2 linked regions of the Homo sapiens genome follow. The protein of the gene in region 1 interacts with the protein of each later gene in a pairwise test. Each region holds a gene or a part of one and is shown in the gene's direction. Other genes may lie near its edges.

Region 1 (4,257 bases):
CTACTTCTACTGAATGTTTACTGTGTGTCAGGCACTGTGCTTAGTGCTTTACATATAATCTCTCAACATACCATCAGTCATCACAACAACCTAGAGAAAGACATAGCCTGGATTCTGCTTTACACATGAGGAGACAAAGTCTCAGGGAAAGTCCATAGGAAGTGGAGTAGGCCGGGCACGGTGGCTCATGCCTGTAATCCCAGCAGTTTGGGAGGCCGAGGCGGGCAGATTGCCTGAGCTCAGGCGTTCAAGAGCAGCCTGGGCAACATGACGAAACGCCGTCTCTACCAAAAATACAAAAAATTAGCCAGGAGTGGTGGCACACACCTGTAATCCCAGCTACTAAGGAATTTGAGGTGGAAGGATCATTTAACCCTGGGAGGCAGCGGAGGTTGCAGTGAGCTGAGATAGCGCCACTGCACTCCAGCCTGGGTGACAGAGTGAGACCTCATGTCAAAAAAAAAAAAAAAAAAAAAAAGCAAACAGTAAAAATTGGTGGGATTTAAAAAAAAAGGAAGCGGAGGAGATGGGACAGGACTCAGGCCAGCAACCGCACTGCCAGCACACTGTCTAAATTGTGGAGAAATATTGAGAAAAGGTTAAATAGCGCAGGTTCAGCCTGGGCTTCAAAGCTGAATTGAGAGAACTTGGGGGCTAAGGATTTTTCTCCTCATCTTGAAATTATTTTCACACTAGTGTTTTTTGTGACTATCTTTGTTTGCCTTAAACTAAGTGTTGACTGAGATTCTGTCATACATAAGATACGTTGAGCTACTACTTTGTAAGTAGGTGTTAAAATAGAGCCTAGTAAGGTATAATAGATGGGACCAAGAACATCTTCTGGGAAATTCTTTTTTTCTTTTTTTGAGCCAGAGTCTCGCTCTGTCGCCCAGGCTGGAGTACAGTGGTGCAATCTTGGCTCACTGCAACCTTCGCCTCCGGGGTTCAAGCGATTCTCCTGCCTCAGTCTCCTGAGCAGCTGGGAGTACAGGCATGTGCCACCATGCCTGGCTAATTTTTGTATTTTTAGTAGACACAGGGTTTCACCATGTTGGCCAGGCTGGTCTCGAACTTCTGACCTCAGATAATCCGCCCACCTCAGCCTCCCAAAGTGCTGGGATTACAGGCACAAGCTACTGTGCCCAGCTGGAAATTTTTTCTTAAGAACACAAATTGAGACCCCTTTCTTTCGATGGGTGGCTTGATGTTTTGGAGTGGGGAGCCCATTCACTCTTTATGAGGGACTCTATCCTTCTCTTCCCTTAATTTTTTTCTTGCTAATTAAAATTTCCTTGTAATTTCAGGAAAGCCTAAAAAAAAAAAACCACACACACACCAGAAAAGCATAAAGGCAAAAACAGGATGATAAGCCATTTACCCCCAGAGACGAGCATTGTAATACACTGACTTACCCCAGCTGTGTTTTTCTTGCATCTGCACACACAGACTCCAACAGATGGGATGCTCTCTGCCGCAGACACAAAATACCAGACTAAAAGGGGTTTGGAGGATGGGATTTTGTTATCCCACATGGGTTGGTTTTTGTGCAGCTCAGCAGTGTGGGGCTCTGTATCACTCTCAGCCAGTACTCACCTTCCCCTGCTGGTACAGGATGCCTGCTCAAGCACCCAACCAAAGGAAGGACACGTGTCCAAAGGAAGGACACGCTTATGTTCTCCTTGTGGCCTGTCCACTGAGCAGGACACCCTCTCCTAAAGCACCAAGGAGACTTCCTCTTACATCTCCTTAAACAAGGTTATGTTCCATGCCTTTGCCCTGTGGCGGGGGCGGCTGAGAAAGTTGAGTACATGCATTTCAGCCTCTGCCACAGGAGGTGGGTTCTGCCAGCGTATCATTCAGGGTTCTGCTGCCACATGATTTTCCACGGCTACATAGAAGTCCATCATAGGAATGGCCACCTGACTAAGTCACTCCCTGACTTCCTTTTTCTCCCCTGACAACTAGACATTCTGAGCTCTTCCATTTCCCTCTATAAGGTTAGATCAGCTTGCATAACAAAATGGCATTTGTCTGGTGTGCCCTTGACTTGAGCTGCAACTTCTCTCCCCTGCAGTTTATTTATTTTATTTTGTTTATTTATTTATTTATTTTTTTGAGACGGAGTTTCGCTCTTGTTGCCCAGGCTGGGAGTGCAATAGCACGATCTCTGCTCACCACAACCTCCGCCTCCCGGGTTCCAGCGATTCTCCTGCCTCAGACTCCCCAGTAGCTGGGATTACAGGCATGCACCACCACACCCAGCTAATTTTTGTATTTTCACTAGAGACAGGGTTTCACCATGTTGGTCAGGCTGGTCTCGAACTCCTGACCTCAGGTGATCCGCCTGCCTCGACCTCCCAAAGTGCTGGGATTACAGGCATCAACCACCGCACCCAGCCTGTTGTTTTTTATTTATTTATTTATTTATTTATTTATTTATTTATTTATTTATTATTTTGAGGCAGAGTCTCGTTGTGTCGCCCAGCCTGGCATGCAGTGGTACAATCTCAGTTCACTGCAACCTCCACCTCCTGGGTTCAAGCGATTCTCCTGCCTCAGCCTCCCAAGTCACTGGGATTGTAGGCACCCGCCAACCATGCCCAGCTAATTTTTGTATATTTAGTAGAGACAGGGTTTCACCATGTTGGCCAGGCTGGTCTTGAACTCCTCACCTCAGGCAGTCTGCCCACCTCAGCCTCCCAAAGTGTTGAGATTACAGGCGTGAGCCACCAGCCTCCTGCAGTTTATAGACCTGGTTGGTTGGTTCCTTCACTCCCAAGGCTGAAGGAATTTGGATTTATGTGAAGGAGGTCTGGAAGTCGTTTTCTTTTTTTTTTTTTGCTATGATACTACTTTATTAGGCAAAACCACATACTACAAAAATGCTGGAAGTCATTTTCTCTGTCCTTTCCCTTACTCCCTGGATAGTTGAAAATAAAAAAATAAGGGGGGAGGTGCACGCAGGGCTAGTTGAATTGTCCCCAGATTCTACCCTCAGAGGGCACTGGCACTTACTGAGCCGTGGATCCTCTGAATCACCCTGCATGACCCAGAGCTGTGTCCTGACGGCGTCTCCTTCTTTTGCAGGTGGTGGAGTTTGACACCCCATCGGTCCTTCTGTCCAACGACAGTTCCCGATTCTATGCCATGTTTGCTGCTGCAGAGAACAAGGTCGCTGTCAAGGGCTGACTCCTCCCTGTTGACGAAGTCTCTTTTCTTTAGAGCATTGCCATTCCCTGCCTGGGGCGGGCCCCTCATCGCGTCCTCCTACCGAAACCTTGCCTTTCTCGATTTTATCTTTCGCACAGCAGTTCCGGATTGGCTTGTGTGTTTCACTTTTAGGGAGAGTCATATTTTGATTATTGTATTTATTCCATATTCATGTAAACAAAATTTAGTTTTTGTTCTTAATTGCACTCTAAAAGGTTCAGGGAACCGTTATTATAATTGTATCAGAGGCCTATAATGAAGCTTTATACGTGTAGCTATATCTATATATAATTCTGTACATAGCCTATATTTACAGTGAAAATGTAAGCTGTTTATTTTATATTAAAATAAGCACTGTGCTAATAACAGTGCATATTCCTTTCTATCATTTTTGTACAGTTTGCTGTACTAGAGATCTGGTTTTGCTATTAGACTGTAGGAAGAGTAGCATTTCATTCTTCTCTAGCTGGTGGTTTCACGGTGCCAGGTTTTCTGGGTGTCCAAAGGAAGACGTGTGGCAATAGTGGGCCCTCCGACAGCCCCCTCTGCCGCCTCCCCACGGCCGCTCCAGGGGTGGCTGGAGACGGGTGGGCGGCTGGAGACCATGCAGAGCGCCGTGAGTTCTCAGGGCTCCTGCCTTCTGTCCTGGTGTCACTTACTGTTTCTGTCAGGAGAGCAGCGGGGCGAAGCCCAGGCCCCTTTTCACTCCCTCCATCAAGAATGGGGATCACAGAGACATTCCTCCGAGCCGGGGAGTTTCTTTCCTGCCTTCTTCTTTTTGCTGTTGTTTCTAAACAAGAATCAGTCTATCCACAGAGAGTCCCACTGCCTCAGGTTCCTATGGCTGGCCACTGCACAGAGCTCTCCAGCTCCAAGACCTGTTGGTTCCAAGCCCTGGAGCCAACTGCTGCTTTTTGAGGTGGCACTTTTTCATTTGCCTATTCCCACACCTCCACAGTTCAGTGGCAGGGCTCAGGATTTCGTGGGTCTGTTTTCCTTTCTCACCGCAGTCGTCGCACAGTCTCTCTCTCTCTCTCCCCTCAAAGT
Region 2 (4,736 bases), on another chromosome or scaffold:
AGCCAGGCCAGAGACCTGGGAGTCATGGTCAATATCTCTTGTTTCCTTACCTCTAGGCTCCCAGCACACACACACACACACACACACACACACACACACACACACACACACACCACCACCACCACCACCACCACATCTAATCGGCCAAGAAATCTTTGTAGCTTTTCTGCATTACCCAGTATAGCAGCTGCTAACTTCAGATGGCCGTTGAATACTTGAAATATAACTAGTCCAAATCTAGATGCTGTAAGTGGACTTTCAGACAATGCCAAATAAAAAGAAGCATTTCGGAAATGTTTATATTGGCTGCATGCCGAAATAATAATATTTTGAATATTTTTGGTTAACTAAAATATATTATTTAAATTAATTTCCCCTATTTCTCTTTACTTTTCTAATATGGCTCCTGACCCATTTTATTTCTGTTGAGCATCACTCTTCTAAATGGCTCTCCTGTGTTCCCTCCTAACCTTTCTCTATCACCACCCTAATTCAGGCCTTCATTTCCTGGTGCCTGAAATTGCTTTTTTGTGTTTTTGTGTTTTTTTTTTTTTGGTAGAGGTGGGGTCTCACTGTGTTGCCCAGGCTGGTCTCAAACTCTTGACTTCAAGTGATTCTCCCGCCTCAGCCTCCCAAATGCTGAGATTACGGGCCTAAGCCACTGCACCCAGCTGGTTCTCACGCTTAACCCTCCTCTAATCTGCATGCTGTAGCCACAGGGTCTACTTAAAACATAAATGTGATCATGTCACTCTCTGACTTACACCCTTTCAGTGATGATCTATTACATTACATCATCTGTTACACTTAACTCAGCATACAAGGGTCTCTGTGAATCAACTCTTCAATTGCCTCCACCACATATACTCTAGGTTAGAGCCCTTCAGAACTAATTGCCTTTCTCTTTTACCGCTATTTCTAGCTGTTTCTTTCCTTGCTAGAAATTTCCCATTCTCTCCAATCTAATTAACTCCCAACTTCCTTAAAGATTTCACTCTGCCCGCCCCACTGCCATCCCTCACTCTTGCCTGGTGTCACAGTTACCTATTTACTGATCCTCTATCTCTTCAAGACTCTGAGCTCCTTGTTTGGGGCCTATCCTAAAGGAGAACTCAATAAAGGTTGATTGGAATGCTCAGGCCCAGAGGGGCTGACCCTTTATTTCTAAGGATACTTCAGCTGTTCTTGAAACCGAGAAAGAGGAGAAATGAGATTACCTGGTAGGATTCCCAACCAATCTCTCTTTTTTCTCAAAAGTCCCTCTAGGTCAGCCAGAAGTATCCAGAGGAAAAAGTCTCCATTCTTCATAAATGCCCTCCCCAATTTCACCTCTACTTATCCTGCTACCACCCCTGCTCTCCCCTAAAGGTCACTGTAGACAACTTTGGGCCCCCCTCGGTGACCTTTAGGAGTGGAAAGCTGGGTGTGATGGTTCATGCCTATAGTCACAGCACTTTAGGAAGCGGTGGCGGGCGGATCACTTGAGCTCAGGAGTTTAAGTCCAGCCTGGCCAACATGGAGAAACCCTGTCTCTACTAAAAATACAAAAATTAACCCGGTATGTTGGTGCACGCCTGTAATCCCAGCTACTCTGGTAGCTGAGGCATGAGATTCACTTGAACCCAGGAGGCAGAGGTTGCAGTGAGCCGAGATCCTGCCACTGCACTCCAGCCTGGGTGACAGAGCAAGAACTTGTCTCAAAAAAACACAAAAAACAAAGAGTAGGGTGGAAAGGGAGTCCTGCTGAATCAGAGCAGCTCCCTCGCTCAGTGGAGGGGCTGCAGCAGACAGTATCTGCTGTGGAGTAAAAGGGGGAGCCCATTCAGAGTGAGATGGGAAGCATTTTGAGTGTCCTGCCTCCTAATCTTTCTTTACTCCCTCTTTCCCCTATAGACCATAGTAACCTGGGAGGAGGAGCACCTGGTGTGTGTGCAGAAAGGGGAGGTCCCCAACCGGGGCTGGAGACACTGGCTGGAGGGAGAGATGCTGTATCTGGTAAATGGGGTGGGGGCTGGGTGTCTGGGAGAAGGGCCTCCAGCTATAAGGCATCCCCTTGTCCAAACCAGATAGGTCCACCACTCTTCCCCCAGCCCAGCCCCAATCCCTATCCAAGGAATTGACCAGGGAGGGAAAGCAAAAGCACTGGGAGGAGTGGGGAGAGGAAGAAACAGAGTGGCCAAGGTGGGCCCTGGCTACGAGTCGGATGAATGCCCATAAATCATCACTGGCGAGATGGAGGCTTCAGCCACTCACATCCCCTGACCCAGCCACCTTCCTTCCTGAGGGGTGGAAAGTTGAGGATGTGGAATAATGATACAATTGCCCATACATCAAACACTCAAGCTGCTGTATCCGGAAGGAGTAAATGGAGGTCAAGGACCTTGAGAAAGGGGCTCTGGCTGGCAAACGCCCTCTTTCTCTCTCCCCCTCACTTCCCCTCTCTCCCCAGGAACTGACTGCAAGGGATGCAGTGTGCGAGCAGGTCTTCAGGAAGGTCAGATAGCCGGAGAGGAGCCAAGATCCCTCCAGACAGCACCAGCTCACAGACGCTCTTGTTGTGCCCCCTTCAAGCCCAGATTGTGCCAGGTCAGCTGTCCCTTCCTCTGGCCACCTTTCCTCCCTCTGGGTCCCTCCTCACCCCTCCCCGTGTTAATCTGTAACTTGCAGCCCCCAGGCCAAAGTCCTTTCTCACACTCCACTGCCCAATAGTGACCTCACTTCCAGGTCAAGGTCTGGCGTCCCAAATGAAAGAAGCAGGCAAAGGGAAGGAGCCCCTGAGAACAACCAATCTCCGCTCTCTCCTGTCCATTTGACCTCTTCTTTTCCTTCTAAGAAAGAACTAAGCTTTGGGCATTTGGCGATTAGTGAAAATTCTATCCTGATGGACTTCTGGAAAACTGTGACTGGGGTTCAAGAGTTTAAACAGGGGCTACTGGCAGAGTCTTTTTGTCCATTTCTTTGTCCTTATCCTTGAGAAAGTCTCATGTGCTCAACAAAACCAGGCCCAAGACACAGCCCCCCACACACAGGGTTCAACGGACTCCACGGTTCTGACATCTGAAGGCATCTGGCCATTTGATACTTCCATCCTATGTGTTGGGAATGAGGGATGGAATGGGGTAAGACCTTTGTCCAGTGCTTGGGGAGGCGGGGAGCTTCTAAATGGTGACCTGTCCTCCGTGTCTGCTTTGGGAAGGGCAAGCAGCAAGAAAGCCAGAAAAAGCTGAAAAAGGAAGTAGACGGAGGATGTGAGGTCAAGGAATAAAAGACAGTAATACAGGGGTGTGAAGGCATAGGAGGGAGAAGCCCAGCAGTCCTGGCTATAGGGACCCTCTGCTCAAAGGCCAGCAAGGCTGGAGACCAGAGATAAAGAGGAGAGCTGAGGACAGCAAGGGTCCCAGAGTTGCTGCCTTGGAAAACAGCCCAGAAGGGTGGAGCTGGCTCAGGGTCAAGGCCAGCTCCAGCCTCTGGCCTCCTCTCCACCTCCAGGGGCCTTGGCTCTTTCAGAATAAAAGTCCTAGGGGGCCCAACTATCAGAGTGAAGAGGGCTCAATGTGAGGGTGGGAAAAGAGCCTGGGGGAAGGGTTGAGGGAGTTGGAAAGTCCCTGGCCCTCATCAGATGAAGACTCTTGACCCATCTTCCTGCAACGGCTGGCCCCCCCATGCACACAAGACAGTCACTAGGGCTCTGGCCAAGAACTAGGGGCTTGTGATACTGATCCTACCACATGCTCTGGAATGAATTTGGAATAGAAAAAAAAAAGGAACTCAGGGTTGAATGGAAAATCTTATTCCCTGCCCAATCTCTGCAGATGTCCACAGTAGAGTGGAAAGCCCCTTCTTTGCAAAGCCACCCAGCAGAAGCTCTGAGGGCTGCTGGAATCCACCTTGTCCCATTCCAAGGCACAGGAGGATGCTCCGTGTGTACTCGCCCATTGCCCACATCTCCAGATCAACACAGTGTCCTTGCTCTTGAGTTCACAGTGCATGTCCAAGCCTCTTCCCACAGGACGGTCCTCCATGCCCTTCAGTGACCATGCTGGTCAGTGGAGTCTCGGCAGAGGCCTTGACTCAGGAACTTGTAGGCCCCCATGGTGGGTTTTTCTAAATATTTCTATATATTTTTATTTTTCCCCCAAAGGTTGACACTTCTTACCATGGTGGTTTTAAGACCCAAGCTAAAGTGGGCTCAATCCCTCAAAACTCCCCGTGATGTGGGCGTCCAGAACATGGCCACTGCAGGACCCCATCCTCCACTCGACCACACTTCTCCAGGGGCCAGACCACACCCAAAGGCCTGGAGATCCCCTAAGGGAGCACAAGCATCAGGGGAGGACTATGCAGCTTCAGAGGCATTTCCAAGAGGGTGGGAGCTCGACCTGCAGAGGGGAGGGGACCGCTGTGGGAAGCTGGAGCTGCTGTTTCCCCTGCGGACACTAGAAGCCAGGGATTCTCCAAATTCAATCCTCCCTCCTCCACCACCTTCTCTGATATTCCATTCCCACCACACACACACACACATACACACACACACATATAAACACACACCCAATCCATGTCCTGGTCCTCACAAGACCATTACCCCTCATTCAAATCAGGTTCCATCTGTCCTCAGAGGGAAGAGATAATCACCAGAGGGACCAAGATGTGAGTGGAGAAAGGGCAGGGGAGGGGACGAGGGCCACAGACAGGTGGGTCCCACACCAGACCCTCCCAGGGACACACAAAGTTGTGGA

The links. Proteins that work in one complex are often made in the same cells at the same time.
Region 2: the proteins of ABCC5 (region 1) and RBP5 interact in a two-hybrid assay, tested with the Homo sapiens proteins (one large-scale study listed by BioGRID and IntAct).

The regions. Positions count from the first base shown.
Region 1 is NC_000003.12:183,920,232-183,924,488, reverse strand, and holds part of ABCC5 (ATP-binding cassette sub-family C member 5), read left to right. Parts: intron 1-3,087; coding exon 3,088-3,189; 3' UTR 3,190-4,257. UniProt on the Homo sapiens protein: ATP-dependent transporter of the ATP-binding cassette (ABC) family that actively extrudes physiological compounds, and xenobiotics from cells.
Region 2 is NC_000012.12:7,121,888-7,126,623, reverse strand, and holds the end of RBP5 (retinol-binding protein 5), read left to right. Parts: intron 1-1,893; coding exon 1,894-1,995; intron 1,996-2,449; coding exon 2,450-2,503; 3' UTR 2,504-2,938; downstream 2,939-4,736.